Linked DNA regions of Homo sapiens: regions 1, 2 and 3 are each linked to region 4. The links come from fine-mapping of genetic effects on gene expression. A gene starts in region 4. Each other region holds a variant in brackets. All regions are shown on one strand. Distances are from middle to middle.

Region 1 (8,143 bases), 19 kb before region 4:
GGCGTTCCTGGGGAACCTCCTCCCCCAGGAGCTTACTACAAGTGCCGGAAATCTGACCACCAGGCCAAGGAATGCCCACAGCCCAGGATTCCTCCTAAGCTGTGTCCCATCTGTGCGGGACCCCACTGGAAATCGGACTGTTCAACTCACCTGGCAGCCGCTCCCAGAACCCCTGGAACTCTGGCCCAAGGCTCTCTGACTGACTCCTTCTTGGCTTAGCAGCTGAAGACTGACGCTGCCTGATTGCCTTGGAAGCCCCGTAGACTATCACGGACGCCGAGCTTTAGGTAACTCTCACAGTGGAAAGTAAGTCCGTCCTCTTCTTAATCAATATGGAGGCTACCCACTCCACATTACCTTCTTTTCAAGAGCCTGTTTCCCTTGCCTCCATAACTGTTATGGGTATTGACAGCCAGGCTTCTAAACCTCTTAAAACTCCCCAACTCTGGTGCCAACTTAGACAACACTCTTTTATGCACTCTTTTTTAGTTATCTCCACCTGCCCAGTTCCCTTATTAGGCCGAGATATTTTAACCAAATTATCTGCTTCCCTGACTATTCCTGGATTACAGCTGCATCTCATTGCCGCCCTTCTTCCCAATCCAAAGCCTCCTTTGCGTCCTCCTCTTGTATCCCCCCACCTTAACCCATAAGTATAAGATACCTCTACTCCCTCCTTGGCGACCAATCATACACCCCTTACCATCTCATTAAAACCTAATCACCCTTACCCCGCTCAATGCCAATATCCCATCCCACAGCATGCTTTGAAAGGATTAAAGCCTGTTATCACTTGCCTGCCGCAGCATGGCCTTTTAAAGCCTATAAACTCTCCTTACAATTCCCCCATTTTACCTGTCCTAAAACCAGACAAGCCTTACAAGTTAGTTCAGGATCTATGCCTTATCAACCAAATTGTTTTGCCTATCTACCCCATGGTGCCAAACCCATATACTCTCCTATCCTCAATACCTCCCTCCACAATCCATTATTCTGTTCTAGATCTCAAACGTGCTTTCTTTACTATTCCTTTGCACCCTTAATCCCAGCCTCTCTTCGCTTTCACTTGGACTGACCCTGACACCCATCATGCTCAGCAAATTACCTAGACTGTACTGCCGCAAAGCTTCACAGACAGCCCCCATTACTTCAATCAAGCCCAAATTTCTTCCTCATCTGTTACTTATCTCAGCATAATTCTCATAAAAACACACGTGCTCTCCCTGCCAATCGTGTCCGACTGATCTCTCAAACCCCGGCACCTTCTAGAAAACAACTCCTTTCCTTCCTAGGCATGGTTAGCGCAGTCAGAATTCTTACACAAGAGCCAGGACCACACCGTGTAGCCTTTCTGTCCAAACAACTTGACCTTACTGTTTTAGCCTAGCCCTCATGTCTGCGTGCAGCGGCTGTCGCTGCTTTAATACTGTTAGAGGCCCTCAAAATCACAAACTATGCTCAACTCACTCTCTACAGTTCTCATAACTTCCAAAATCTATTTTCTTCCTCATACCTGACGCATATACATTCTGCTCCCCGGCTCCTTCAGCTGTCCTCACTCTTTAAGTCCCACAATTACCATTGTTCCTGGCCTGGACTTCAATCTGGCCTCCCACATTATTCCTGATACCACACCTGACCCCCATGACTGTATCTCTCTGATCCACCTGATATTCACCCCATTTCCCCATATTTCCTTCTTTCCTGTTCCTCACCCTGATCACGCTTGATTTATTGATGGCAGTTCCACCAGGCCTAATTGCCACACACCAGCAAAGGCAGGCTATGCTATACTACAAGCCACTAGCCCGCCTCTCAGAACCTCTCATTTCCTTTCCATCGTGGAAATCTATCCTCAAGGAAATAACTTCTCAGTGTTCCATCTGCTATTCTACTACTCCTCAGGGATTATTCAGGCCCCCTCCCTTCCCTACACATCAAGCTCGAGGATTTGCCCCCACCCAGGACTGGCAAATTAGCTTTACTCAACATGTCCCGAGTCAGGAAACTAAAATACCTCTTAGTCTAAATAGACACTTTCACTGAATAAGTAAAGGCCCTTCCTACAGGGTCTGAGAAGGCCACCACAGTCATTTCTTCCCCTCTGTCAGACATAATTCCTCAGTTTAGCCTTCCCACCTCTATACAGTCTGACAACAGACCAGCATTTATTAGTCAAATCAGCCAAGCAGTTTTTCAGGCTCTTAGTATTCAGTGAAACTTTTATATCCCTTACGGTCCTCCGTCTTCAAGAAAAGTAGAACGGACTAAAGGTCTTTTAAAAACACACCTCACCAAGCTCAGCCACCAACTTAAAAAGGACTGGACAATTACCCCTTTGCTTCTCAGAATTCAGGCCTGTCCTCAGAATGTTGCAAGGTACAGCCCATTTAAACTCCTGTGTAGACACTCTTTTTTATTAGGCCCCAGTCTCATTCGACACCAGACCAACTTAGACTGTGCCCCCAAAAAACTTGTCGTCCCTACTATCTTTTGTCTAGTCATACTCCTATTCACCGTTCTCAACTACTCATACATGCCCTGCTCTTGTTTACACTGCTGGTTTACACTGTTTCTCCAAGCCATCACAGCTGATATCTCCTGGTGCTATCCCCAAACTGCCACTCTAAACTCTTGAAGTAAATAAATAATCTTTGCTGGCAGGACTACGCTGAATCTCCTTAGGCACTCTCTAATCAGATGTCCTAGGTCCTCCCAATTCTTAGACCTTTTATACCTGTTTTTCTCCTTCTGTTATTCCATTTAGTTTCTCAATTCATCCAAAACCGTATCCAGGCCATCACCAATCATTCTATATGACAAATGTTTCTTCTAACATCCCCACAATATCACCCCTTACCACAAGATCTTCCTTCAGCTTAATCTCTCCCACTCTAGGTTCCCACACCGCCCCTAATCCCGCTTGAAGCAGCCCTGAGAAACATCGCCCATTCTCTCTCCATACCACCCCCCAAAAATTTTCGCCGCCCCAACACTTCAACACTATTTTGTTTTATTTTTCTTATTAATATAAGAAGGCAGGAATGTCAGGCCTCTGAGCCCAAGCCAAGCCATCGCATCCCCTGTGACTTGCACGTATACGCCCAGATGGCCTGAAGTAACTGAAGAATCACAAAAGAAGTGAAAAGGACCTGCCCCACCTTAACTGATGACATTCCACCATTGTGATTTGTTCCTGCCCCACCTTAACTGAGTGATTAACCCTGTGAATTTCCTTCTCCTGGCTCAGAAGCTCCCCCACTGAGCACCTTGTGACCCCCACCCCTGCCCACCAGAGAACAACCCCCTTTGACTGTAATTTTCCATTACCTTCCCAAATCCTATAAAACGGCCCCACCCCATCTCCCTTCGCTGACTCTTTTCGGACTCAGCCCACCTGCACCCAGGTGATTAAAAGCTTTATTGCTCACACAAAGTCTGTTTGGTGGTCTCTTCACATGGACGCGCATGAAACTTGCCACTGAGGCCAAGAATGTTCTCTGGTTCTGCCGAATCTGAGATGGAACCTCTGTTGATTGGTCAGCTTTGTTATAACATTGTTTACGACCTATTGCTTAAGACGTATTTCTGGGATGCAACCAGTTTTCCTGATAGCTGATATTTGTTTATTTACCTCTGCATATATTTATTTAATATGACATAACTTTGGCATTATATTAAAAGAAGGAAGGAAGGAAG[G/A]AAGAAAAGATGTTTCCGTGTGGTCAGGCTGAAAGGGCATTGGCAACAATTCACTGTATTTCATAGAATGGCAGAAATTTGAGTAAACTACTGGTCAAATCATATCACCCTCACCTTCTCTCCATTTTATTCCTTGAGTTTCCTAAGGCACTCAATAAGACAGATCCTACTTCCCAACACCAATATTATTGAGGAGTTCGCTTTAAAGGAAAATGAAATATACACATTAATGAAACTACTACTTTTCCATCAAAATGTCATTGTTACCACCACTGAAGAGGATTACAAATGGCACCTTAAGGTTAGGCTCAGTTCAAGGCAGATTATAACTAGTAACTATCGGCCACAGGCTTTTGGTACATTTTATCATGTTTTGTGGTTTAACGCCAAACAATTAGGCCAAAGGGTGCAGGGAGTTAAAGCTCAATAAAGATCTGGGAGTCAAAGCAGTCATCTGTCCTTTTACTTTTCTGCTAATTAATATTTAATTGTTGTTTAGAGGGTATGTAAGTGGAAATAGCCATTTCCTTCCTGTGATCATCCTAGCAATGGTAGTTACTTCTCCACGAACAGAAACAAGAATTTCCTTTTAGCTGCTTGCCTGTGAATAAAGCCTCATTTATACATGCCAGCCAGTATGCTTCTAAAAGACTATGTAAGAATTTCACTTTAGCTAAGTTACTTATCTAAAGAAATAAACATTAGACTTTGGGTAGCCTTTGCTAAGACATTTGTTCCCATAGCTAAAGTTTTCTGCAATTTACAGTTCCTTGTGGTTTCATAATTTAGAGATCAGTTTATGGGGAATATATCCAAATCAATTTACTTATGCACTTACAATTACTGAAATGCTCCACCTTTCCAACAATACAAGGAAATACTTGCTTTCCTAGTATTTCTCATTTTTTTCAACAATACTAGGAAATGCCTAGTTTCCTACAAAGATTAAAATTCCCTAAACACTAGAGTTGAATACAAGCTTTATGTTTTAGAATTTCATCATGTTTGTGAGGATCCCCCCAAAATATACATTTTTCTCCTTTCTTAAACAGAATATAATATGTATATAATACTTTCCTCGGTTATCGGAAAGGCTGCCAACACTTACTACAGGTAGTTCTGGGGAGGACTAAAGGGAAATAAGAGACCAATTGCATTCAAAACTTGAACCCTTTCATGGAAATCACACAGTCCACCTTTGGGATTTATCATACCCCTTCTCATTCAAGTTTATAAAGTCTCTGGAGAGAAAGACATCCATTCCAAATCTCAAATCCTCAAACACCCATCCCCTGCCACACAAGCTCACAAAAAGAATATGCGGAGGAGTCACCAAGGAAAACCACTCTGCTTATCATAATTAGGCAAATGAGCAAACCCAATCCCCCCAGAGGAATCAGGTAGATACAATAAGATAAATAAGGGAAATGCTTGTGTGTAGAGAAAGAGGGAGAGTTCCACTTGTGAGGTACTGGAGAGCACATTGTCTAAAGGGGGAAGCTGCTGCTCACCTCCAGCTCACTGGGGCCAAGCAAGATTGCAGGTCCCCTTGCTGCCAGCTTTTCTGACTTTACAAGAGCAGCTAGGAGTACACATCTTTATGTAACAAGTCCCTGTTATTTAAATAGTATGCGGAATAAACAAAAGCTGTCTCAGCTCAAAGGTGAACTGCGGGCTGTCTTTTATCAACACCTAGTGAAAGGCATCGGACTCAGGCTCTTATATAAACACGAATTCTTGTGAATGAAACTCATCAACTGAGTGAAGCCACGCACAAGCCCCAAAACTTCCATTTGGTGCACCTGGACCAAATTTTGTGTTAGAAATATTGATATCAATCCCAATCAGTCCTGTGGGTCCAGCCTCCTAATGTCTCAGAAATCCATCAACTTCTTTCCATTTTCACAGTTACCACCATCCTTAGATGAGAGAAAGACATTTATTCCAAATCTCAAATGCTCAAAGACCCATCCACTACCACAAAAGCTCACAAAAGGAATATGCGCCTGCCACCTCTACAGCTTCCTGCACGGATGCCCTGTGACCCACCCAGTCCATGCTCCCCAGAGCTATTCATCGATGCAGACCTGTGTCTACCCTCGTGTGACACTGGCCTCCTTTGAAACTCTTCCATGGCTTCCCATCACTCCTAGAATAAACTTGAAACTCCTAAGGTGAGGTGCAAGAGGCCCTGCTTCTGTGCCACCTGGTCTTGTCCCTGTGTCCCCTTTGCTGTCCTCCTCACTGGCTGGGCTCTTTCAGACTCTCACATGTGCAAGCTCCTTCCCACCACAACTCCCTGTTTGTTACAGGTTTTATCTTTTCCTGGAATGACCTTCTCTTGGCTCTCTGCCCATTTTTCCCCTTTTTCCTTCAGGTTTCAATGTAAATATCATCTCTCCTTGGAGAAAACATCTATGATCCCCATAGTTCACCTCTGTATCTACCTGGTTCCTCTGGGGGGATAGGGTTTGCTCATCTGCCTAATTATGATAAGCAGAGTGGTTTTCCTTGGTGACTCCTCTGCATATTCCTTTTGTGAGCTTCTGTGGCAGTGGATGGATGTTTGAGTATTTGAGATTTGGAGTAAATTGTGTCCATCAAAATGATATGTCGAAGTTCTAACCCCGGTACCTGTGAATGTGATATTATTTGGAAATAGGGTCTTTGCAGATGAGGCCATTAAGGTGGGACCTATTCCAACGTGACAAAAAAGTGGAAATGTGGACACACAGACAGACACAGACAGACACACACACAGGAGGAATACCATGCGAACATGAAGGCAAAGATGAGGGTGATGCCGCTACAGGCCAAGGAACATCAAAGACTGCCAAGAGTTACCAGAAGCCAGAAAGAGACCTGGGACAGATTGCTCCTCACAGCCCTCAGAAGGAAAGGACCCTACTGACACCTTGATCTTAGACTTTCAGCCTCCAGAACAGTGAGAGAATAAATCTTTGTTGTTTGAGCCACCCAGTTAGCGGTGCTTTGTTATGGCAAGCCTTATGAAACTGATACAACCACCCAATCTAAAGTAGGTTCCTCCCGTTAGTACTTCTTTCTCATACTTTGAGAAGGCATGAGCGCCTGTTACAGTTTGTATTACTCACTGGTTTGTTTACCTGTGTCAAATACTTCTCTCCTACCAGACCATAAGAAGCACGAGGTCACAAACCATGCTCATTTTGTTCACCTCTGTATGCCTGGACAGCACCAGTCCTGCTCAGTAACAGCCGTTTTCATTCCATGAATTGTGCTTTAATACTTCACACTCCTTTTGGTTTTTGAGATGTGTGGGCAAAACTAAATAGTCCCAGATTGCTGGCCTGATACTTACTACTCCTTCTGCACTCTCAGAATCATGGAACTGTAGTGCTAGAGAGACCCCGGAAATCAGTTAGCTACCCACCACCACCAGCCCCCACTGGTTTTTCAAATGAGAAAATTGTGCCTTCTCCATATGCAACCAGCTCTCACTTCCTACAGCTGTCAGTCACTCCTGCTGCTGAACAGCAACACTGTATTGGCTCCAGCTGCTAAGCCTGAGGGTCCAGAGGTGGCTTCCCCTCACCTGCAGAAGTAAGCACATGACTCTGTGACAACTATTCGCTGCTCAATGGCATTTCTGCTTTATTAGAATAATAGAATTTTATGCCTCAAAGAGTCCTGTGACGTCATCTGAGAAACCTCATCCCCTTATTTAATGGAGTAGGAAAAGTCTCAAGTCATATACACTTTAAAAGTAGTAAGACTGTGGCCAGGCACAGTTGCTCATGTCTGTAACCCCAGCACTTTGGGAAGATGAGGCAGAAGGATCGCTTGAGCCCAGTAGTTCGAGACCAGCCTGGAAAGCATGGTGAAACCCTATCTCTACAAAAAATAGAAAAATTAGCAGGGTGTGGTGGTGCATGCCCGTGGTCCCAGCTACTCAGGAAGCTGAGGCAGGAGGATCGCTTGAGCCCCGGAGGCAGAGATTGCAATGAGTCAAGATCACACCACTGTACTCAATCCTGGGTGACAGAGTAAGACCCTGTCTCAAAACAATAAAGATTTTTTTAAAAAGTCACAAGATTGGGCTGGGCTTGGTGGCTCATGCTTGTAATCCCAGAGCTTTGAGAGACCACAGTGAGAGGATCACTTGAGCCCAGAAGTTCAAGACCAGCCTGAGCGACATAACAAGACATCATCTCTAAAAAAAAAAAAAAAAAAAAAAAAAAAAAAAAAATTTAAGTAGCCAGGAATGCTAGCACCCACCCATAATCCCAGCTACTCTGGAGGCTGAGGCAGGAGAGTCACTTGTGAGCTGCGATTGCACCACTGCACTGCAGCCTGAGTGACAGAGTGAGACCCTGTCAAGAAGGGAGGAAGGAAGGAAGGAAGGAAGGAAGGAAGGAAGGAAGGAAGGAAGGAAGGAAGGAAGGGGAAAAGGAAGAAAGAGAGA
Region 2 (8,000 bases), 300 kb before region 4:
CAGTATAGATGATATAATTTAAAACAATTGATACTATCAGCTGTCATAAGAACCAAATACTTGGTTGACCTGTGGGTGGCTGACTCATGGGCAATGAAATAAATTTTGTTTTATACGTATAACTTTATATATATGTAACTTTATATATATATAAAAAGTTTGCTTATATATAATATATATACACATATCATATATAAATATATTGTTTATAATATGTAAACAATATATACATAAATAATATATAAAAACTATATATTATATATGTAAACAATATATTTTTAAAAACCAAACTCATGGGTTTATAGTTTTTTCATAGTGAAAACAAACAAATATATAAACAAATATATAGTTTGCTTATATCTATTATATATAAACAATATATAATATATAAAGATATAAATAATATATAATATATAAATATATATTTGTAATATATAATATATAAATAATATATATTTGTAATATATTATTTGTTTATATCCATTATATAATATAAACATATGTAATATATATAATTTATATGAACAATATATAATATATAAACAATATATGTTTTTATATATTATATATAAACATATATATTCATGATATATATGTATGTTTGTTTACACTATGGAAAAACTATAAACCCATGAGCTGGGGTTTTGTCTTTTTTTTTTTGACTTAGGTTTTCTATTCTCAAAGGCATTAATCAGCACCCTTTTTCTCACCCTTTGTTATCAACATATAAGCAGGCTAGAAAGACAGTATTTTATTCCAATGTGAAACAAAACTGCTGATCTGGAGGTCTTATGTTATAAATTCCCACATCATACCTTCAACTATATATATGTCCTGAAACTAGCATATTTTGAGAATAAAATGGTAAATGACATTTAAAGGACACCTATGGTTAATCCTACAGTAAATGAGATAATTTATTTTGAAATGAATGATCAACTCTACGCTCCAAATTTTCACGTAAAAGGTGTTCAGGTGAAAGGAGGCATATTTGCTGTGGCATTTCTGCACACTGCCCCAGGCACTATAGCAAGATAATTAAGACATGGTCCAGTCTTCAAGGGGATTACAATCCCATGGCTAAAAAATCACCTATATAAAGATAATACAAAGAGACAATGATACTTTTTTTTAAAAAAAAAAAGACAGATGTTTCCTGCGAATCAAGAGGAGAAATGCTTTCTATTTACCTGTGGAAATTCAAAGCAAGCCTGTCTGCTCAGAAGATAAGGAGTATAAAATGGCATGCTTCCCTGGGAAGGCTGGAAGGCCACTGCTAAAAAGCTTCCCAGGGACCTTCTTTACCTTGTGACTTCCATTGCTCAGATTCCAGCCTCACACCATGCCTTCTCAGATACCTGACTACTTAATGATTGGTCCTAAGGGCCAATCCAAATGCTCAGTGCTATTATGATTATTATTGCCATCAATTTCTGAGCATTTACCATGTACCAGGCCCTAGGATAGAGCACTCGGTGCATTTTCTCATTTAATCCTCACACCAACTTCATTTTGCAGATGAGAAAACTGAGGCACAGGACATTTATGTAACTTGCCAAGGTCACAAAGACAGTACGTGAGAGTTGGGATTTGGGTTCAGGCAGCCTAGCTCCACAGTCTATGCTCTTACTATGCTCTTCTACTTCTCTTAATAATAATAACAACAACAATAATAATAAACATTTATTAAGAATGTACTTGGTGTCAGCCACTCTATAAGATAGGTACTTCATTCCCATATTAAAGATAAGAAAACTGAGGCTCAGATAGATTAAATAACTTTTCTGAGGCTGCACAATAAGTAAGTAGTGAAGCATTTCCAAAAACATATTCTGAAAAATGCAGATCTCCAAAGAAAAAAGTTTCCATAGTCATTTACATTTGGAAACCATTGCCCCTCTGAGATATCTGTGGTATACATCAGCATATTAAAGTCTCACATGAATGCTTCAGTAAAGAATCCTGATCAGCTTTGGTTAGGCCAGCATTTTCCACACTGGTTTAAACATGGAGCTCTAATTCTTCCAATACCTGTCAATATCCCATAAAACTAGCACTATGCCATGATGGACTGACTCTAACCAGTCTCACTAGACATTAACCAGGTACACTAGGCTAGGAGGTAAAGCTGGAAAGCCAGGTTTTCATTTGCAATGAGAACTAGGATGGATGAGACATACCAATGATACCAAAGAAATACTCGAATATTTCTCCGTCTCCAGCCTTACTTTGCCTTGTAGGTAGAGCTGCTTGGGAAGCCAAGGCAGGACTCATTTCAGGGACACATTATCATGCAGGGAGGGAGGGTAGGAATAGAGAAGGCAAATCCAGGAGTACCAGAGGAGCAGTGCCTTGAACCCCTACATGCAGGCTAAACTCACGTGGCCCCTCACCCAGAACACTGCAACAGCTTCTTAACTGGGTTCAGCTTCCAGCTTTGCCCCTTCCAATCCCTTTTCCACTCTGCCACCAGAAGCAGTTTCAATATATATATAAATCTAATCATGTCAGTTTGCTGTTTCAGATTCTTCACTGGATCCACCATGCAATTAAAACCCAAACTCCTTCGCATGGTCTCCAAGGCTCGTGTGATGAGCAGGCTCCTCCTTACTCTTCCACCGTGGCTCCCACTAGTACATTTCAGCCAACCATCATCTTTCAATTTCTTAAGCAACTATGCACTCTCTTGCCTCAGTCTTCACCTATCCTTCTTTCTCCGCCTGAAGCATTCCTCTCCACCCCCCTTTCCACATGGACAACTGACTCCTCTTTTGCTCACTGCTTATGTCTCACTTCCTTCAGAGAAATTCCTTATTTTCTACCCCCTAAATGTGGGTTAGGGGCTCCTCCCTGATACTCCCCTCAGTTCTCTTTACTTCCTTTGTCAGAGATGTCTGACACTGTGTCATAATTATCTGTCCACATTTTAGCATCTACTGCTGTGCGTTTACTTAGTTAGTAGTTATTAGACAGTTGCCTAATCAACATTTATACCCATGTCTTGAGTGGCAACATAAAATAGCACACTTATAACATTCCCAGAGGACAAGAAGCTAGGGAGAATATTAAATATATTAAATGCATACTTAGGGGTTAAAATGATCTTAAGAGCATGGGACAGTGAGCCAAATTCAATAAGAAGAAATTTAACCCATGCAAAGTCTTAATATCGAACTAAACAGAAGAAAACAATTGCACAAATAAATATAGCCAAATAGCAACATGAGTGGGTGACTTGTAGGGGCCTCAACTGAATTTTGATCCATTGTTGCTAGAAATAACATTAGAATGTGTTTTAAGGGAGGCTGAGGCAGGGGGATTACCTGAGGTCAGGAGTTCAAGACCAGCCTGACCAATATAGTGAAACCCCATCTCTACTAAAACAAAAACAAAAACAAACAAATTAGCCAGGCATGGTGGTGTGAGCCTGTAGTCTTAGCAACTTGAGAGGCTGAGACATGAGAATTGCTTGAACCCGGGAGGCAGAAGTTGCAGTGAGCTGAAATTGCACCACTGAACTCCAGCCTGAGCAACAGAGCAGGACTCTGCCTCAAAAAAAAAAAAAAAAAAAAAAAAGAATGTGTTTTAAGGGTTTTGCTTTATCAGATGCATAATATAAATCAACAGTGAGTTAAGAGTATCCAAGACACTGACAATATCTTGATTTGAAATAATAGACTGTTTATTTTAAAAGATGTAATGGTCTCTTTTTTTTTTTTTTACAGAAAAACCACAACTAGAGTAATGTACTTAATTCCAGAAAATAACACTTCAAAAGAGAAATTGACAAAGTGGAAAATATTCCAAAACAGAGCGTTGGATAAAAGTTCTAGAAATAACTTCTTAAAAACAGTTAAATAGGCTGGATGTGATGGCTCACGCCTATAATCTTAGCACTTTGGAAAGCCAAGCCGGCGGATCACCTGAGGTCAGGAGTTCAAGACCAGCCTGGCCAACATGGTGAAACCCCGTCTCTATTAAATTTTTTAAAAATACAAAAATTAGCGGGGCATGGTGGTGAGTGCCTGCAATCCCAGCTACTCAGGAGGATGAGGTGGGGAGGATTGCTTGAACCCAGGAGGCAGAGGTTGCAGTGAGCCGAGATCGCGCCACTGCACTCCAGTCTGGGTAACAGAGCAAGACTCTGTTTCAAACAAGCAAACAGTTAAATAAATGAAGAATGTTTTACTCAGAAAAAAAAAAAATCCTATGAGCAGTCTTTAAATACCTAGAGAGTGCCAGCTAAAATGAATAAGAGGACTTATTCTATATTTATCTAGAAGTCAGAACGAGGACCCATGGTTAGAAAAATTACAAGGAAGCAGATGTCAGTTTATCTTAAGAGAAGTTTTCAAATAATTAGAGTTGTTTAAAAATGGACTGTTTGCCCTATGAAAAAATGAGTTCCCTGTTCAAATGGAAGCTAGAAGCCCAAGTAGTAGGGCTCTCATGAAAATGTTTCATGCAG[G/C]GTATAGTAGTTCTACCAGATGGCTGAGAAAATGCTATTGCTGTTCTGTGAGATTCTGTAAGGATGTAATATCAGTATATTCCTTCCATTGGTGCTGGTAAACGGAGAACTGATGAAACCCATTTCTAAGGACTTTGGTGTTTAGCTATTTTTAAAAAAAAAACTTTAAAGCCCCTGTGCTAAGAAAGAGGACCAGAGGAGTTGATTGCTAAGCTCCTTTTCAACAGGAACATTTGTGCTCCTCCAGCTCATTCTTGGGCTGGTTTATCACGGGGATTGTGGTCTTAATAAGACCAGAGGACTTAGGAGAAAGGCAGCTTGGAATAGAGAGGTCTAGAGAATTAAACATCTTTAGCTCACAGCATAATGGAAAGAAAGTGCCCTTCAGGGGAACATGTATACAACAGGGTTCTGAGAAGAGGTAAAAATAAAACTGCATCCTGCACTTTCTGCTTGCCGTAATGCTGCAGTCAGGGTAACCCGGGGAGCACCACGCCCTGTGAAATGGCTGTCACAGTTTAGGGGCAGTGAGCCACAGTAAGCCTAGGACCCACTATGTGCCAGGCATAGTGCCAGACCCACTGCACCGTTATCTCATTGAGCCTTCATAGACCTTCTCAGGGTATTAGTATCCTCATTTTAAAATAAGAAAATTCAGATTCTGAAAGGTAAAGTACCTTAACGCAGTAATTTTGACACCTGAGATTCAAACTCAGGATTGCCTGAACTTTGAATTGCTCAGCAGTGTTTCAGGAACTCCTGGACTTTAGGACCGAAGAGGATCTTAAAGAGCCCAACTTCTTGGTTTTGACTATGGAACACAATGGGGTCCAAAGGGACCAGGCATCCTGCACAGGATTTATGTGTGGAGGTAAAGGAAGCCATTCGACTATGGCAGGAGATGCCCCGGCATGGGTACAAGCTCAGCAACTGTGCTTTCTGCGCACATGGTGCTTATAGCCATGAAGGCAAATCATGCATCAGGCAGGGGCAGGGAGGGGGAGGGCAAGAGGCCAGGGCACCCCTGCCGACCCTTCTACCCTCCCACCCCACCTTCTCCCCAATAACTCTTTACAATGCCAAATGCACATGCAGAAACCAGTCTCTAGACTAGATCTTCTAAAGTACAGTGAGGACAGGGAGTTAGGATGACCCCCACTTTCAGTCATCATTCATAGAGGGGAAGGGGAAAAGGGCAGGAAGAGAGCTGACTTTCATGTGTCAGACCCTTTGCTAAATGCTTGCATACGTGTCATCTCATGCCGTCTCCTGTCACATTCCTGTAAGAAGTGGAACATGTTAGGCTATGAAATGAATATTAGTGTCTCCATTCTATGATGAAGAAATGAATTTAAGTCACACATACAAAGTTAGACAACTAAGAAACATGTGATTTACGTTTACACTCCTGATGCCACAAATCAAAAGAAAAACCTGTGAATGTTGGCATCAGACAGTCCAGGTTTTGACTTTTGAACTGGCCCATTAGTAGCTAAGGAAAGCTGAGGATAGTTTCTGTGTCACTGAAAACAATCACACTTATCTCATGGAAATCTTAGTGTCCTTTCTCCAGACCTGCTCCCTCTCTTTCCTGCATTTGAGGGATGAGATCTACTTTTAGAATTACAGAGGGAGGAGGCATTTGACCCTTTTTGAGGTAAAAGGAGAATTTTAGATTAATGGCTAACTTTGTCCTTCGAATGTCCCCTTGAGGCTTTGTCAGATTTGATTCCTTCCTTTGGAAAGATAAGAAAATTGAAGTGGCTATTCCCTGCTTCTGCCTGGTTAGTCACAGAGTGAGGCAGTGACATGATGGGAAGCTTCTAACATAACGAAAACTAGCGTGAGACTGAGAACCTGAAGACTTCAACTCTGGCCCTAGCTTCTCTGTATTTGGATCTCCCAGACAGGCATCCATCTATCCCACAGTGAGTGCCTTGTGGTCTGAAACGAGATCAAAGGTGGAAAAAGCTTTAAAAAGCTCTCTTCAAAAACAAGAATGTCACAAGAGGCTGACTCTCGAGACTGTGTTCCCCTACCCCTGCCTCCTACAGAGTTTCATTCAGCAGACCTTGCTACCTGCCTTCTTCAGGGAAAATAATCTTGTTTTTGAGTTTATGTTTAAACTAAAGTTAGTTGATTATTTTCTTCAACCCTTGTTTTTCTTGTTCATAGAGTTTCTTAATGTCACGAGCGTTCACCTGTTCAAGGAGAGATGGGACACTAACAAGGTGGACCACCACACTGACAAGTATGAAAACAACAAGCTGATTGTCCGCAGAGGGCAGTCTTTCTATGTGCAGATTGACTTCAGTCGTCCATATGACCCCAGAAGGGATCTCTTCAGGGTGGAATACGTCATTGGTGAGTGCCATGTGCAAGCTCCAGTCTTGACACCATGGGTTGCATTGTAGAGAGAGGTGGGTACAGGCACAGTTGTGTGATTTCCTAGTGTCATATGTCAACAGTGGCAGGAGCTGGAATGACATCCAGCCCCTGAATTACCCTGTGCTCTAAGACTGGTCTGTATAGTGCCAAATATTGATAACTTGGGCCCACCCAAGGAGAAAATCTCATATAAATAAAAGTAAAACTGGTATAATGTGTTGCTTAACTAAATTATTCTTCCTCAAACAAATGGTTTTGGCATCCTATGATTCTAACTTTTATCTCCATGATTTAATTGGTCTCGTGCTGAAAATGTTTGTAAATCTTAGCATGCAATCCAAGTATGCATTCCGAAAGTTGATTCTGCTCTGATCTAGTCCCATGGGATGGCCCGTGAAAAATATAGTCCAATAAACTTCACTAAACACTTTGTACTTTAATCACCCTTTTTTTTTTTTTTTTTTTTGAGACAGAGTCTTGCTCTGTTGCCCAGGCTGGAACAGTGGTGTGATCTCAGCTCACTGCAACCTCTTCCTCCTAGGTTCAAGCGATTCTGGTGCCTCAGCCTCCAGAGTAGCTGGGACCACAGTTGCACACCATTACGCCCAGCTAATTTTATGTATTTTTGGTAGAGGCAGAGTTTCACCATGTTGTCCAGGCTGGTTTCGCACTCCTAACCTCAAGTTATCCACCCACCTCAGCTTCCCAAAGTGCTGGGATTGCAGGCATGAGACACCATGCCCAGCCTTTAACCTCCTCTTGAAGATTAACGATGCACATTAGCTTCAAAGGTCTGGGGAAGGACCATTTAACTTTGGTCTGGTGCTTCTTAAATTAATTTGATCATGGAACCCTTTTATTAAGTTATAGCTATTAACTTTTGACACATTTTGGTAAACATTTCTATAGGAATTTATAAGATTATCAAGGAAATACATGCACAGAGAAGCAGGGGTGGCACAACATAGGAAATCTGCCCATATAATCCTATGCACAAATTAAAGGAAAAAATTAGGCAATCAAATCAGCAGTCACAGAAAGGTACATGGTAAAATTCAGCATCCAGTTTTAGGAAGAGTTTAAGGGGAAAAATTTAGAAAAAAAACACCTCAATGATAATAAAGATTGCTTACATCAAAACAAC
Region 3 (8,143 bases), 26 kb after region 4:
CATTATCCTGCCTCTCACTTGCTGAACCTATGCCCAAAGTTTATTAGAAGAGATGAACAACACAAAAAGGAACTAGAGAACAGGCACTGTAGAAACCCAACTCCTGAGCTACAGGGCCAACCTTAGACTCAGCTTGTCCAAATGTTGACTGACAGACAACCCATTAATTCCTTTAGAAAAACCATGGTTTATTGAATATCTGGTGCTCTTTTTCTGAAATTCTGGAAGACCCTTCTAACTCTGGAAATATCCTCTGCAAACCAAGTGTGGAGGAGGGTTAGCAACCAGTACTCAAGAAGGACTTATGCATGTGAGAGCCATGTGCTTGGGCAGTAATGAGAGTCCATGCAGAACACTAAAATTAGGGTGCAGTTTCCTGCTACCCTATACTCAGGCTGAACACATGGAGCTGATCATTTCAACAAGCTTGCCTAGCTTTTCCTTTTGATGGAGAAACACAGTGGGAAAAGATTGGTTCTTCAGAAATTTCATTCCAGTGTCTTTGACAACTTCATTTTTTTCGTTTTTGGGGGATTTATCTTGTTTTTTAAACAGCAGGTGATTTGCACCATTTTGAAATAATCAGTGCCTTTCTCATCATAGCTTGAGAGAGACTAGGTTAAAGAACTAGAGAGAGGAGCCCAGAGGGTATGGAATGCATCATGCAGTAGCACCAGACTCTTCTATCAATTACCACGTTTTCTGAAGGTGGTGTTTCATTCTTGGAAGTTTCCAAGTTGGGCCTGCCTGTTAGGTTTTAAAAGGAGCAGAAGGATAATAGTGGTGCAAACGGCTTTACAAATATTTTTGATGGCAGATCTGCAATATCTAGGTCTCACTGAGTCAAATACCAGAAGCACTGATGCTTCTTGCCCACCCTTTCCAGTGGAGGGAGGAAGGGCCCTGCTCCACTTCGACCAGAGCAGTCAGCAGCCTCTTCAGGACGTTGCTGGGTGCTGGGTTGCATTGTACAAGGCTACCCAAAGTGGGTCCAATTCCTGTCCTCTTGGAGGGGCATCTGAAGCAGAGAACATTGACATGGGAACATAAAGAATGACATAGCTGTAATTATGTAAGCTTAATATAAGACACTGGTTTTCATGTAGTTTATGAAAATAATGTTCATTGTTTTATAGTCATCCCAACTACAGACTTGCATAATAAACCAATCAGCATTCCCTTTGCTATATTTTCCCTTGTTCATAGCCACAGGAGAAAAATTGGGATCCCCTAAGTAAAAATAAAAAAGACCTATTATTTTGATGACCATGGTCTCTGCGTGGTTGTGGATGAAGGGGTGAAGAAAAAGAAATTATTACACAATAGCCTTTCTCAAAATGAATGGCTTGTTTTAAACAATGTGTTTTTCTTGGCAAGTTCAGAGCTACTACAAAACAACCATCACTGCTGAAACCTTGCAGAACCAGCAGGAGCGAGTTATCTTCTCTTGCTCAAGGGACACGCCAACTGTGAACTCTTCCCTCCTCACCTCCTGGCAGGGAGATGGGTAATTCCAAAGCTCATATATACCCCAAAGTAGCCTTTTTAGGTTTTGTCCCTCTCCCTTTGGGTCTTTTATAACACAGCTGTCTACATGAAGAGAAGAAAGTCAGCACCAAGCTGATGGACTCTAAGTGATCACAGATACAAAGAGACAGTGGTTTCTGAGTAGGTGCAATGTTATGAAACAGGGTGAAAACTATCAAGCACAGGTGGGTGTCTGCTACTGAGAGGGACTGCAAAGAGCCGAGACAGCCCATCAGGGTAAGGATCATTTGCTCTTTCTATAATGTGTCTCTCCCTACTTGATCCAAGGCCTGCCTTTTTCTCTTACCCCACTGTTTACCTGCTGTTTCTCTGCCTTGCATGCCCCACGCTCATTTAGCCTTCATGCCTTTGAACTCATTATTTCCTCTGCCTCTCCCCAGAGTCTTTGTGTGGAAGGCTCCTTCCTGTCATTTTGTTTCAACCTCAATGCCACCTCTTCGGAGATACCTTCTCTGACCTTTCATTGTAAAGTGATAGCCACCTTCTCCCGGAAATCCTCCCAGCAAACAGGCACTATCACATTGCCTGATTTTGTTTCATTTACAGCATTTGACACTTGCACAACTAAAAAAAAATTGCTTTATAACATTGCTTCATACTCTAAGTTTCGATTCCCTGGGCAAAGCTGGGCCCTAGGCCTTGGGCAGACAGTCTTCTGTGCAGTTTTCTGTCTCCTAAAGGTCTTGAGTGGTCACCTCCAGCCTCTCCCCTGCTCCCCTCTGCCTTTGCATCACTACAGTTCCACATCCAGATTTTATCTTCACCACTCAGCTCACATCTTGGTCTCTTTCTTTTGAAGGTGGAGTCTTGCTCTGTGGCCCAGGCTGGAGTGCAGTGGCTCGATCTCAGCTCACCACAACCTCCGCCTCCTGGGTTCAAGCGATTCTCCTGCCTCAGCCTCCCAAGCAGCTGGGATTACAGGCATGTGCCACTATGCCCAGCTAATTTTGTATTTTTAGTAGAGAGGGGGTTTCTCCATGTTGATCAGGCTGGTCTCAAACTCCCAGCTTCAGGTGATCCACCCCCCTCAACTTTCCAAAATGCTGGAATTGCTGGTGTGAGCCACCGTGCTCAGCCAACATCTTGGTCTCTTTTGCTCTTAACAGTAAGCAGGCCTCGATATAGGACCAAGAAGCAAGTGCTGGGCACCTCCAGAGGATCCCATGTGGCTGCCCTCAATCATCCAGAAGAGCAGAAAGTAAGCTGATACAAACCACGTTCTTCATGGCCTGCGATGGGGCACATGAACCCATGACTGCATGAGTAAATGTCGCCGCAGGGCTCTGTGTGGAGTGTGACTGGGGGGGTGTGGATCCTTAGCAAAATGAATCAAGAGGCAAACTTTGCCTGTGATGGCAACACCACTCAGGTCCCCCACTTCTCCTGTCTTTGGGGTTGACTTGCTCCAGTTGGAAAGCAGCTTCCCTGAAGCTGCTTTTCCTGCCCTTTCTCCCCCAGGAAGCTGACGGGAGGAGGAAAATGAAGTATCTGATGCAGGGCTAAGGTTAGACAGAAAACATAAGAACAAGGAGGAAAAGAAGCCCTCTGAGACTCTTGGGTGAGGACATTGAGGGACAGAATATATATTTCTAGGGTCCCTAGTTGGCATTCGGAACATTTTTCCCCATACACCAGTGTTTCTTAACCAGAGGTAATTGTGTTCCACAGGAGACATTTCGTAATGCCTGGAGACAGTTTTGCTTGTTACATCTGAGAAGGGGGTGCCACTGGCATCCCTGAGTAGAGGCCAGGCATGTTGCCGCGCATCCTACAATGCACAGGACAGCCCTTGCCACAAATAATTGTCTGTCCCAAAATGTCAGTAGTGCCAAGGTTGAGAAACTATATCATAGAACAATGATGTATTTGGTAATTTTGCTTAATAACTCAACCATAGTGGCTTAAATAGGTTTTGAAGATTTCCTGTATTTATTCATTTATTTATTTTGACAGGGTTCCCCTCTGTCACCCAGGCTAGGATGCAGTGGCACAACACAGCTCATTGCAGCCTTGAACTTCCAGGCTCAAGTGATCCTCCCACCTCAGCCTCCTGAGTAGCTGGGACTACAGGTATGCACCACCACACCTGACTGATTTTTAAAATTTTTATAGAGATGAGTTCTCGCTATGTTGCCCAGGCTGGTCTCAAACTCTTGTGCTCAAGCAATCCTCCCGCCTGGGCCTCCCAAAGTGCTAGGATTACAGGCATGAGCCACTAAGCCCGGCCAAGCTTGACTTTAATATCTCGCTACATGTCTCTACTAGAGAGTATCTTTTAAGCTTCACTTGGTCAAATAACAGTAATTACATGGCTCACACATAGCAGGTACATACATCACTTTGTTCATTTCCTTCACAGCACTAATCATAAAGGGGAACAACCTTTTAAATTTGCTTAATTAATAGCTTTCTGCTCCAACTAGGATACAACCTCCTAGAATATTGCCTGATCTAGAGTAGACACTCAATAAACATTTGCTGAATGAATGAATTCAGACAGTTAGCTACTGCCTGTTTCTTCTTATAGGCAGAAGCCATCTCTCGTGTATGTGTCTATATCTATAGCAGCTAGCGCAGATTTTTATATATACAGAAAACTCAACAACTGATCTCTGAAACCATGAATCAAGGCGTGTGAATGAATAAATGAGTTAATTAATATATAAATGAACAGGCAAACAGTACTAATATTCCTATGTCCACTGTGAAAAAATTAGTAAGCATGCATGCTACTACAGAGGATATTTCAGAATGCATGGTGAGTTTAAGGGCCTTGTTCTACGCTCCAGCTTCCTCTCTGTAGAACTTTCTCCCCGG[G/A]AGTCAGGTGAAGAGTACAGATTGAGTGCTAGAGACAGTGGTTTTCAGCAGAACTCTGAACCTAAGCTAAGGAAGTGATGACTCCTCTCCCTTCCTAACTATTTTCTAAGAATGTTTTGGCCCTCTGCCATCAAAGGATGAATGCTACAAGTAGTGTAAGTTAGTAATATGGCGAGTGTGATGATTCAAATGGCTCAAAGGAGGCAAAAAAAAGTCTTTGTTGCACAGTTCTCTTTCCTATTCTTTTCTATAAATAGCATGTTGATTTTTAAGAGCTGCCAGATTTTATAAACTTCTTTTCCAGAGTGATTTATTAGTGTCAAGCATTACTATCATCCTGTAGTTCTAAACTCCTCTCCTGTGGGCAGTAATTTAGCCCTAGTTTTTTCTCTGTGATAAACCTTTGCATGATTCGTGAGTCTCTAATTAGGGATCATAGTTTCCTTGCAGGTCTCTGCAAAGAAACAGCCAACAATCTCAGGTTAAGAGACTCAACACAAGAGAGAAACCAATTTTGCAAAGTGTCCCAATAATGTCTCTCATAGAACTTTTTCTCCCTGAGCCAGGATCCAAAATAGTGTCATGCATTGCACGTAGCTGTCATGCCTCTTTAGTCTCCTTTAATCTCGAACAGCTGATGGGGGCATATTTGCAGCGAGTATCCATTAAAAAATACTTACACTCTCCAGATACATCAGCTTGGTTAATTGGAAAGCTCTTTAATAATTGTTTTAGTACATAAAATTAAGAGTTTCCACAAGAATAATTAATCATACAGTATTTTATAATAAGAAATATTTATATATCAACTGACTACGGAATTTCAACTTGCAAAGCACATAAATGGATTTTTCACCCTGAGTTACATCTAAAATGCTTACCTATATTTGAAAGTGATGGAAAGCTGGTGAGTAAATATTCCCCTATTCTGTTCCTTGGGTGGACAATTCTGAGACACATTCTACACATTTTCTAAGAAGGTTCTGGCAGCATTGAGATGCATGTGCTCACAAAGGTGTCAGTCTCAGTCTGTACGGGCTGCTATGACAAACATGCCACAGCCTGGGTGGCCAGCATAGTCAGGTTCTGGTGAAGGCTCACTTTCCTAATTCTAAGACAATGTTCTTGTTGTGTCCTCACATGGCAGAAGGGGAAGAAGTGAGAGAGATATTTGGGGTCTCTTTTATAAGGGCACTAATCATTTTCATGAGAGCTCCACTCTCATGACCTAATCACCTTGCAAAGAACCCACCTCCTAAGACCATCACCTTAGGGGTCAGGATTTCAACATACACATTTGGGGGATCACAAACATCCAGTCCATGACAGTGACCAAATTAAGAGCTCACCCTTGCAAGGATCCAAGAAGGAAGACAAAAAAAAAAAATCAGTTAAAAGAAAAATATGATAGGAAAGTTGAAAGACATTGAAAATTGAAAGACATTGAAAATTGAAAAAGATTCACTCATGGAAACTCCAGAAGGAGAGAACAGAGAAAATAGGGGAAGTAATTGAAGAAATAAAATAAAATTTCCCAAGCTGAAGAAAAGCACCAGTTGTCAGATTGAAAAAGCCTGCTGAATGACATCTCCAGAGAGAAGAAAGCCAGTTACCTACAATGAAAAGAGACAAAAAATTGGCATCGCGCTTCTCATGTCAACATGGATATTAGTCAACTATGTGGCAAACCATGGCAATAGTTCAATGGGTTGGTGGTGAAACCCTGTTGTTGTTTTGTTTTGTTTCATTTTTGAGATAGGGTTTTGCTATATCATCGAGGCTGGTCTTGAACTTCCTGCCTCAAATGATCCTCCCCCCTTAGCCCTTTCATGTATTTCCTTCTTGGAGAGAGCTGTGTCTTCATTTTTCTCTCCCTGATTGTTGTAGCAGTCTGGAGTTATCTTAAGCTCTGCTTTTCTATTCTAGGCCCCTACACCAGGACGCCTTAAGGGAAGGAAGTTTGCTTGCTTCAGAGTGTAGTTCTCCACTTTTAACCTGGGATCAAACACGTGTGTTGTGTGTATAAACCAGGAGACAGGAGAGAGATGGTTTCTGGGCTGTCCTCTCTGACCTGATGCAGCTGTTTATGACTCACTAGAAGCATTGCTCCATGGCTACTTCTCTTCTTGTTCCATTTGTTCTCTCTAAGTTTGGAATTTCCCCAATTGGCCTTTCACTCACGGGTGTGTCGGGATGTAGTTTTCTGTTCACGCCTGTTATCAGTCTCCTCTCATTCATTTCTATCTTCTTTCCAGGAATGTCTCGAATTTCCTGGTCTTTTAATGGTGGTTTCATTTCATGTTTTCCTAGAATGCTGTAAATGTATTCTTTCTAAAATATAGCTTTTTATTTTAATAGATTCAGGATTGGAGGGAAGGTGAAAGCTTGCACTGTTTGTCAACTAGATCTAATATCATTCATGTGTATATATATGTATATCTGTTTTATATTTTTATTTTGTGTACTATAGAAAAATTATATTGTGAAACATACATTAATAAATTGCATTGTATGTGTTATTTTATAATCTCTTTTTCACTTGGCATTATACTTTTAACACTTCCCTATAGAAAGACTTCATTAAATTTTTCTCAAATGTAAAGGACAACACCATGGGTAAATTTAACACATAACCAGAAATAGGACACTAAATTTAGGAGCTGTTAATTAACTAAATTGAAAAATGCGTGATATATTCTTTTTCTTTCTTTAATGCCAGATCTTAAAATGTTTGGATCTTATCCAACCAAAAAATTGATCAGATTATCAATGTATTTGTTAATTCAGTTGTTCTGAAGTCCAGTTGTTTTAGTTGCTTAATGGCCAGTTATATGCAAGAATCCAGTGATACAAGATCAAACATTTATTCTGGCTGGGTATATTTTTTGAATTTGGCTATATTCGTAACATGAAGTGAAGATGCAAAGAAATTGCACAAACATCTCTGTTAGAAAATGTCTGTGTGGAAAAATCAGAACACATGGACTGTGTGTATAAATTTGAAAGCCTAGGGAAATGAAATAGCAGGCAAGTGAGAAAACTCCTTCTCCTCTCCTGGAGACTTTTTCCCCCACTCTGAAAAAACAGGAAAAATATATAATCTGAACCCTCTCCAAAAGATCCAGAAGAAAGGATATACAACAAGGAAAAGCAACTTACATTATAGTTGATGACTCTAAGAAAAAAAGGGAGCGCAAGGAATAAAATAATGACATTGAGACTCTGAGCAAAACTCAGTGGGGAAGGGTAATAATGTTCTTTGAGAGTGTGCTAAAATATAAAGGAATTCTCCAAGAAATGGCAATCACTGAAGCTCTTAAATATCACAAGCATAAGGCTAGAGACTTTACAAGAATATCTTTCTGATTCACAGAGGAGCTCACTCAAAGTTCTAAAGAAAATCTCTAGCACCACCACCCCCCACCTCGATTAATGAATATCTTTGAGGTAGGCAGAATAATGGACCCACAAATGTGTCTCCTTTTTTTTTTTTTTTTTTGACACGGAGTCTTGCTCTGTTGCCCAGGCTGGAGTGCAGTGTCGCAATCGTGGCTCACTGCAACCTCTGCCTTCCAGGTTCAAGCGATTCTCCTGCCTCAGCCTCTTGAGTAGCTGGGATTACAGGCACACACCATCACGCCTGGCTAATTTTTGTATTTTTAGCAGAGACAGCATTTCACCATGTTGGTCAGGCTGACCAACTCCTGACCTCGTGATCTGCCCGCCTCAGCCTCCCAGGGTGCTGGGATTACAGGCGTAAGCCACCACGCCCGGCCAA
Region 4 (8,132 bases):
TGTGTGTGTTCTTTAAAACAAAATTGGTTTGGGAAGTTCTTAAGCTCTTGAGACTAATTTTTGTGAGTTTGTAATTTGCTCTTTCATTTACTCTAACATATTACTTTACAGACAAAAGTTTTTCATTAATTCTGATTAAATTTATTAATCTTTTTCAATTCATGCTTTTTAAAAGGTTTAAAAATATTCACCTGAGTGCTTCACTTCATATTTCAAAGCTTTACTTTGAATATTTAGGTCCTTAACCCACCTGGAGTTGATTTTTTTTTCAAATGATTTATTTTGAAATGACTTTCAACCTAAAGAAAAAATGCTGGAACAATGCAAAGAACCTGCATACCCCTTTAGCTAGATCGTCATCAGTTAGTAACATTTTGCTACATGTATTCCGTTGCTTTGTATTTATCCCCATTAGCAATATTCCTTTTTCCGAACCTTTTGAGAGCAAGCTACAGGTATGATGTCTTGTCACTCTAAAAACTTTAGTATATGTTGCTCCAAACAAGGACAATTTTTTCTATAATCAGCATACAATTCCCCAATCAGGAAATCAACATTGGTGCAAAACTAATGCCTAATTCACAGACTTCACTGAAATTTTACTGGCTGTTCCAACAACATCTCTGTCTTTTCTTGTCTAGAATCTTATCCAGGAATACAGGTTGCATTTAGTTGTCATGCCTCTTCCAGTTGTTTCAGTGTGAGTGGGGACCACATAGGCATTCCCTTTGTCATAAGTCAATGAATTGTGCATGCTTGTTTTGTGCATTGTTCCGTGTGTATATTTCATGATAAAAACGTTGATTTGTTTTAAATAAAGTGTTTATTTTTAAGATGGAAGTTAATCACACTTCTACATTTCAAATTTAGCATTTGCTCCTAGATTTCAAATTACTGCATTCAAATCAAGTTCAATTTTTAAATTTTTTTTTTTTTTTTTTTTTTTGAGACAGAGTATTGCTGTGTTCCTCAGGCTGGAGTGCAATGGCATGACCTCAGCTCACTGCAACCTCTGCCTCCAGGGTTCAAGTGATTCTCCCGTCTCAGCCTCCCAAGTAGCTGGGATTACAGGCGCCTACCACCATGCCCGGCTAATTTTTGTATTTTTTGTAGAGATGTTGACCAGTCTGGTCTTGAACTCCTTACCTCAGGTGATCCTCCTGCCTCGGCCTCCCAAAGTGCTGGGATTACAGGTGTGAGCCACCGCGCCCGGCCAGCAAGGCCTTGAAGTTTCAACTAATTTTGTAAAGAGTCTCAAGATCAGAGAGTGAAAAAAATCACCTTACCAAGCCACAGATGCAAGGGTAGACCCAGGCCTCCCGAAGTAGATTTTTACTGGGGCCTCTACCAATGTATATACCTCCACAAAAATCTCCTTCCTCTCGTAATCTATATGATTGTTTAAATACAGTATAGTTATCATTTTAATGAAAAGTTATGTAATATAAATTCACATTTTTATTAAAGGTTTTAGCTGAAGATATTTAAATGACTGACTAAATTTATGAGAGAGATGTATTGCTAGACCAATCTATTCTAATAGAGCAGCGATTTTTTCTGACCTAGAATACAAAGATGGGATTTCCTAGTGGCCTTGACAACTGCTCTTGCAAATAATTTCAAAGGGTTGTTTGTCGAGGTGGCAGCTTCTGGAAAGCCGACCTATGATGGATTCATAGCAGGAGCTGGGGAATCAACTGGCATACTGCTCATCCAGACTAGGGCTGTAGCGCCATGAAACGAGAAAGGAAGTTGGTGCCCACCAGGCTTAAAATTAGACATAGTCTCTTTCTGGCCGTTCTAGGGATAAGGAATTTTGCATATTTATTACCTTAATTATGCAGACTTACTTTTGGGAGTTACTTTGGCTCAATTCAACATGCAGACCCAAACAGCACCTGTGACTTTTTCCCTCTCCTGAACTGTATTTGTTTCTTTAAACAAAATTGCTTATCAAAAAGAAATACGTTCTTTGCAAGAAGTTGGCTTATAAAAAGCACTCTTGCACGGATTTTATTCTTCGGATTGTGCGTTTCCACTCCTAATCCCATTCACAGAATTCTAGAAAATCCTCAGTTCACAAAATTTCAAAGGTGAAAACAGCTTTGGAAATTACTTCATAGTCCACTCTCCTTCATTTTCCAAAGTGTGGGGGTCAGCCTGTGAGCTGGGTTTCCCTGCCCCTGTTCACTGCTCTTCCCACTGCATCTTCAACCCCAAGTATGATGTGAGATGAGCTTTTCACATTAATAAAAGAGGGAACGTTCTCCAAAGCCACCTCCAACCATGGATGCTACCGTTCCCAGACAGCATGCATTGACAACCATGAAATGCAATATCCTTTAATTAAAGAACTACGAAGAATCAACCCTGCATGGAGCCTGGACTGCAGAACGACCTGTAATTTAAAAGATGAGAATTTTTCAAAAAATAAAATGTCATGTGCATCTATCTACCCAGAAAATCATTTATGTAGAGTACCAACTCTGTTTGCCTCTCTCTTCTTCACTTTTAAAAAGACTCAGGCCTATGAGGGAGGTTGGGACGCCTGGGGAGGAAAATGAAGAGAGGAAAAAGTCAGCGGGGGTTCCCTCCCGGGGTAGGGCGGTGAGGCGCAGCCACGTCCCAAGGGCAAGAACCGGATCGGCCCGGGGCGCGGCGCGGGCGGCTGTGCGCACGCGCGTGGGTTCACCCGCTTCATTGAGGCCCTCAGCCCTGCCTACTCCACATCCCCAGCGCCCCACGCTCAGAGTTACAGGGGAGGGGTTGGAGAGGATCCCAGAAAATGATGCTGTGAAGATCCCAGGTGGATAAGCAGGAGGAAGGCAAGGACGTTGAGGGCAAAAAACCTTAAGCCACTCCCAAGCCTGGGCTCTGCACGAGTCTGAGCGAGGTTGGGGGCCCGCAGCTGGTGGCCTGGTCCGGGAAAGCTGGGCCGGCCCCACGCGGAACCCCGAGCGAGGGGCGGAGCCGTGGGCCGGGCCGCGTGGCAACCCCCCTGAGGCCCCGCCCCTCGGAAAGCCTCCCGCCCTGCCATTGGAAGACGTCGGGGGAGGGTCCGAGAAACGCCCCCCTCTCGCCACCAGCCCCCGCCCCACCCCTTGTCCGCCCACGTTTTCGGTTCTTCCCGGAGCCTCCGAGCTCGGGGAAAGGAAACACCCGGGGCCGCCACCGTGCCCCTGGACACCGGAAGGCGAGCCCCCAACCGCCCCGCCCGCAGGCCGGTGACATAACCAGGGGCGGGGAGACATGACTCCGCCCCCAGGGCCAGGAAGGCTGCATGGGAGTCTGAGGCTCCCGCGGGACGTGAGTTAGGGGCCGCACATTGCAGACACCTCACGTCACCAAGTGCTGCAGTAGGACCCCCGCAGCTTCCCCTCGGCCCCCTACCCTCCACAGCCTGTCCTACCCCCGTTATTTTGCACCTTTCTCCCCCTTTGTCTATGCATCTCCAAATATCTGAGTATGGGGACGGCAAGATTGGCCCTAGAGGGCAAGCTGCCTGTAGAAGCAAATTCAACGCTTCTCCTTAATCCGTGTGCATTTCTACAGTTTGACAGCTTGACGTCCTCTAGTGTAGTTTGGCAAAATTTGGGGGGTCGTTTTCATTTTTTTCTCTCCACAGGCTTAAGGATTAAAGCTGGCCAATGCCTTCTTTAGCATTTTATTAAAGACGCTACAATTTAGACTTTTTTTTTTTCTGTTTGGTGCAGAAGAAAGGAAGAAAACCAGAGCTTAAAGGCGTTTAGAAAGGAAATAGCCCTGTTAGTTTTTCGGTTTTGACTCAAGCTGTCGTCGATAGCAGCTTGCACCTAGCACAAAGCCAGCTGCAGAAGTATTTTGTTGCAGGGTAGGCTACACCTACACAGGGTCTGTGCCTGAGCATCAAAAGACAGTGCAGGTGTGTGTGGGTCCGGGTGTGCGTGTGCGTACGTGATGTACGTGTGTGCGTGTGGGTACGTGTGTGTGTAGCCCAACAAATAAGCCCAAGAGGCGCATCAAGATTAGAAAGAAGTCCGCACACCAGCGCTTGCCTTGGAAATTTCCTAAAGCGCTGAGAGTTGGTTGGTAAATCACTAGTATCCGAAAACTGTCTTATCAGAGGCTCCTTCCCCGGTGCCCTACTCGCCCCCTAAAACAGGTGTCGCTGTGTCCCTTGAAGCGGCCTTTGGCCCGCTGGGGCATCGCAGGTGGGTAAAATTCAGAGGACATTCGGTGTTTATTTCTGGGGCCCCACGTGTGCAAACCAAACCCCCGGGGCCTGGGCGTGTGCGCGCGCTCGCGTGCCTTGTGTGCGGGCGGGCATGGGGGCGCTCGGCGCGGCTGGCGGGCGTGCGCGCGCGCGTTTGTGTGTGTGTGTGTGTGTGTGTGTGTGTGTGCTCGTGCGGGGGGCCGGGCTGCGTGCTCACGCGCTCCAGGCTGCGCCCAGAGCTCAGCTGCTGGGTTGGAGAAAAAGAGGGTAGGCAAGCGCAGGGGGCGGGCGGCCGAGGAGCGCTTTCGAATTAATCGAGCTAGCTTAGCTGTTTTTCCCTCTCCCGCTCCTTTAAACCCCCCTGCATCGTAGAGAGCGGGCTGGATTCTCTGTGGTGCTGATGGAGGAGGGGGAGCAGGTTGAAACAATCGAGTGGGCGCGCCAGGACTCCCCAGCTCCTGGCGGGGAAGGGAGGGGGAGCCCCTGTTCTGCGCAGGGAGGCGGCGGGGCTGGGGGGCCCCCGGAACGAGGAAGAGGCAGGGGTGACCGCTAGAATAGGAAAGTGCTCACCCCCGGGAGGCAAAATTTCGTTCAGATCGCACATTAATTGGAGATATCTGATTAATTCCAGCTTCTGATGACTATAAATGGCGATTCTCTACCAAGGTGTCTATATTAAAAAAAAAATCATTCCGTGTCATCCCCCACGTCAGGCCTGCTCGTGGGCGTGAGGCTGTACTTCCTCCGCCCCCTTCTAATGGAGTGAACCATTCCCAGCTCTCCCCCCCCCCTCAGCCTCTCTCTCTCTCTCTCTTTCTCTCTCTCTCTCTCTTTCTGTCTCTTCCTCGCTCCCTCTCTTTCTCTCCTCCCTCTGCCTTCCCAGTGCATAAAGTCTCTGTCGCTCCCGGAACTTGTTGGCAATGCCTATTTTTTGGCTTTCCCCCGCGTTCTCTAAACTAACTATTTAAAGGTCTGCGGTCGCAAATGGTTTGACTAAACGTAGGATGGGACTTAAGTTGAACGGCAGATATATTTCACTGATCCTCGCGGTGCAAATAGGTAAGTGGCCGCTCAGCCCGGCTGGAGGCTGGAGGCGGGAGGCAGCCTGCCCCGGCCCGAGGCGCGGAGGGGGACTAGCGGGTCCGCGGCCGCCCCAGGGTGCGGAGAAGCCGGCAATCCCCCGAGGGTGGGGGCATCAGTTCCTGGGGACTAGCGCGTCCCAGATCGGTTTTTCCTAAAGCTATAGATTCCAAATGTTCGCCAGGAAATGTGTGCGGCCGGACATTTTCTGGACACGGTTTTTTTCCCCCTTTTTCCTGAGCACACATCCATTTTTGTTTCCCTTTCTGGGTTTATACCAGGTTTGGTGCGCTCTGGGGCAATGTACTGGCCCCTGCGATACTGCAAGATATGATTTTGAAGAGTCGAAATGTGAATGCAGGAATAAAATGGCTAGGCAGCCAGGACTGGAAAGTTTATGTGCTGAAAGCAAAGATATTCCAGGGCTCAGACTGCTGCATTTAGAACTTTGTCATTCTCCCGCCCCTCCTCCCCCCTATATCCTAGCTGCAGCGTTTGCACGGGCACCGCAGACCCGGCTGGTGGGCAAATCGAGAGTGATAGGGAACTTCAGACCACATATTTTAACATGCTTACCATTGAAGAGGATGAATTCAGCCAAATTTACGTAGATATACTTTTCTAGATGCATTTGCCTGCTACTTTACACATTGGTGTCTGCATTTTATATATAGGAAAGGGTTAAGAAGTGTTTGGAATATGTCATGTCGGGTGTTTGTTATTTTTGTTTGTTTGGGATTGGTTATGGAAGGAATTATTTAGTCCCCATTTTATGTTAAGGAATGTTGAGTTGTAGTTACGCTGTCAGGGGTCTTTTTAAAGTTCACATTTTTACCATCCAGAATGAAGAAAAGATATAGAAGAGGGCACTAGAAAACCCCCTTCTCCGACACTGGGTCAGAACATTAATTAACGTGGCCTAAAAGTGAAAGTGAAGCAGGTTATTAATAGAATGGACAACACGGGGGAAAAAAGAAACTCCTGAAACGGAATTGTTACCTCCTATCAGTTCAGGCTGTGGCATTCTTTGCAGACAAATCCTTGCAGTATTGGGGGAGGGGGTGCTTTAGGTAATTGGTTTGGGGCAAGAAAGGAGAATGCATAATATGTTTTTTCCATAAGAAATGTGAAGGAAACAAGGTTTGGAGTTCTCTAGACCTTAAAATGGATTCTTTGCAGTGGGGTTTTATGCAACTGACATGATTTTGAGATTTTATAATGCAGAAACATTATAAAGATTTTAGAGTGTGTGAGTGCAGGATATTGGTGTTTTCCTTTAGTTCCAAAAAATGACAATGCTTTAAATCTGGTTGTTTTGAATCTTTGACATTAGTGAAAAGAGCTGCTGTAAATAATATTTCTAATGGCAGCAAATTCCTTAAATGTTGGAAATAAGTGAATGTGGCATTTTGCAATAAACCTTTGAATTTTTAGAGAGCAGGAGAGAGAGTTGTTTTTGAGATAGAAATTTTAATCGGACAAGATTTGGGACTCTGTTTTCCCGGTAGGAAATAACCTTACTTTGAGAGGTTTGGAGGGAAAAAAAAGACGGTGGTCGTGCCTGAGGGACGCGTTTTGAACACATTAACCTCGGTCCAAAAATGACTATTTGTTGACTGTGGAATTGAAATTGAACGTATTTGTTCCCTAATGTCTGCCCTTTCCTGCAACAGAACCTCGGTCTTTATTAATTCACGGCTGGGAGCTGTCCCAAATCATTGACATTTGGCAAGAAAAGTGGGGGTTGGGAGGGGCGGGGAGGTAGAAGAGTGTGGTGAACACGAAAGAAGACGCAGCAGGAGGAAGTTCGGAATGAATGAGAGGTCGAACGAATGAATGAACGGATGGAAACCGCACAAGAAGGGGACGGCAGAGAGGACAGGGAAGGAGCCAGGGTCACCCGCTAGAGTCTCGCCTAAGCGGGGTTCAGGAAGGACAGCGAGGGACCCACGGGCTGCGACCTGCTGGGACGCGTGCGCCTGCAAAATCCGTCCCGCGCGCAGCCTCCCGGCCTCCCAGAGAAGGCTAGAGTCCAAGGAGTCACAGTTTTAAAAGACAGAAATGTTCACGACTTATTTTACACAGCACACACTCACACATGCGCGGTGTGCAGGGTCTTCTCCAGCAGCGCCTGGGAAGATAACGTGACAAGAGCGCTCCCGCCCCCGGCGAGCCCCAATTCCCCTTAAAAAATGTCAATGCATTTTAGGGGCTTCTTTCGCCACTGAGTTTTGGGGGTGTAGGCAAGGGGTGGGGAGAGACGTGGACGGGGAGATTGGACTTTATTTTATTTCGTTTCTTCTCTGCAAAGCTGTATTTGTGACATGCGTTATAGAGGAAGATGTGTGGAGTGTATTTCCATTTTGAACGAGCTCTATCAGAACAAAGATTCGTTTATTCTTAAGATTTTACGTCAGTGTTCGATTTGTTAGTATTGTAGTCGCAAGGGTATTTAATGTTCGCTGTAAGGTGAACTCGGAGGTTTGAGAAGGTTTACGTATCTGCCCCAGCGGAGGTCGAAGTTAACCTCGGTCCCTTCCCCAGTGCTTCCCGTTCCGGATTAAAAAGCGCAAGGCCCGCCTCGCTCTTCCTGCAGCAATTTGCAAACGGGTACGCTCTCGGAAGCTGCTACGGGTTCGGTCACCTTCCTCTTCGGCGTCTGGCCCGGCGCTCGCGGACAGGCGCCCGCGTTGGGGGCCGGGGGATTGAGGTGTCCGGTCCTCCCGGGACACATTCACACACAAGCGCAGCCGCCAGAAAGCTGCCGAGGACCAGGCCGGCGCCCAGGGTCGTGGGCGCCAGTGCGGATTTCGATTCTGAGATTCACCCTTTCTTCCCCGCCCTAACGCTGTGCTTCTCT

Evidence for each region. PIP is the estimated chance that this variant, and not a neighbour inherited with it, causes the effect.
Region 1: its variant is the best candidate, but not a certain one, in a credible set for the expression of NRN1 in lung (TOPMed, PIP 0.74).
Region 2: its variant is the best candidate, but not a certain one, in a credible set for the expression of NRN1 in whole blood (INTERVAL, PIP 0.60).
Region 3: its variant is the best candidate, but not a certain one, in a credible set for the expression of NRN1 in monocytes (TOPMed, PIP 0.63).

What each region holds. Positions count from the first base shown.
Region 1 is chr6:6,023,139-6,031,281 of GRCh38, reverse strand. No RefSeq gene overlaps it. Among named protein-coding and RNA genes, the nearest start is that of NRN1, 20 kb to the right of the region's middle. The variant G/A (reference allele first, on the strand shown) is at 3,700.
Region 2 is chr6:6,304,183-6,312,182 of GRCh38, reverse strand. It overlaps F13A1 (coagulation factor XIII A chain), which reads left to right. Exons shown (of 15, transcript NM_000129.4): 3 at 6,644-6,832. The region is part of intron 1 of LOC124901253 (a long non-coding RNA gene); the gene reads right to left. Among named protein-coding and RNA genes, the nearest start is that of F13A1, 12 kb to the left of the region's middle. The variant G/C (reference allele first, on the strand shown) is at 4,469.
Region 3 is chr6:5,978,147-5,986,289 of GRCh38, reverse strand. No RefSeq gene overlaps it. Among named protein-coding and RNA genes, the nearest start is that of NRN1, 25 kb to the left of the region's middle. The variant G/A (reference allele first, on the strand shown) is at 4,366.
Region 4 is chr6:6,003,814-6,011,945 of GRCh38, reverse strand. NRN1 (neuritin 1) reads left to right here and starts at 5,021. Exons shown (of 3, transcript NM_016588.3): 1 at 5,021-5,251. The coding sequence starts at 5,197. RefSeq lists a silencer at 2,971-3,090 and an enhancer at 7,557-8,132.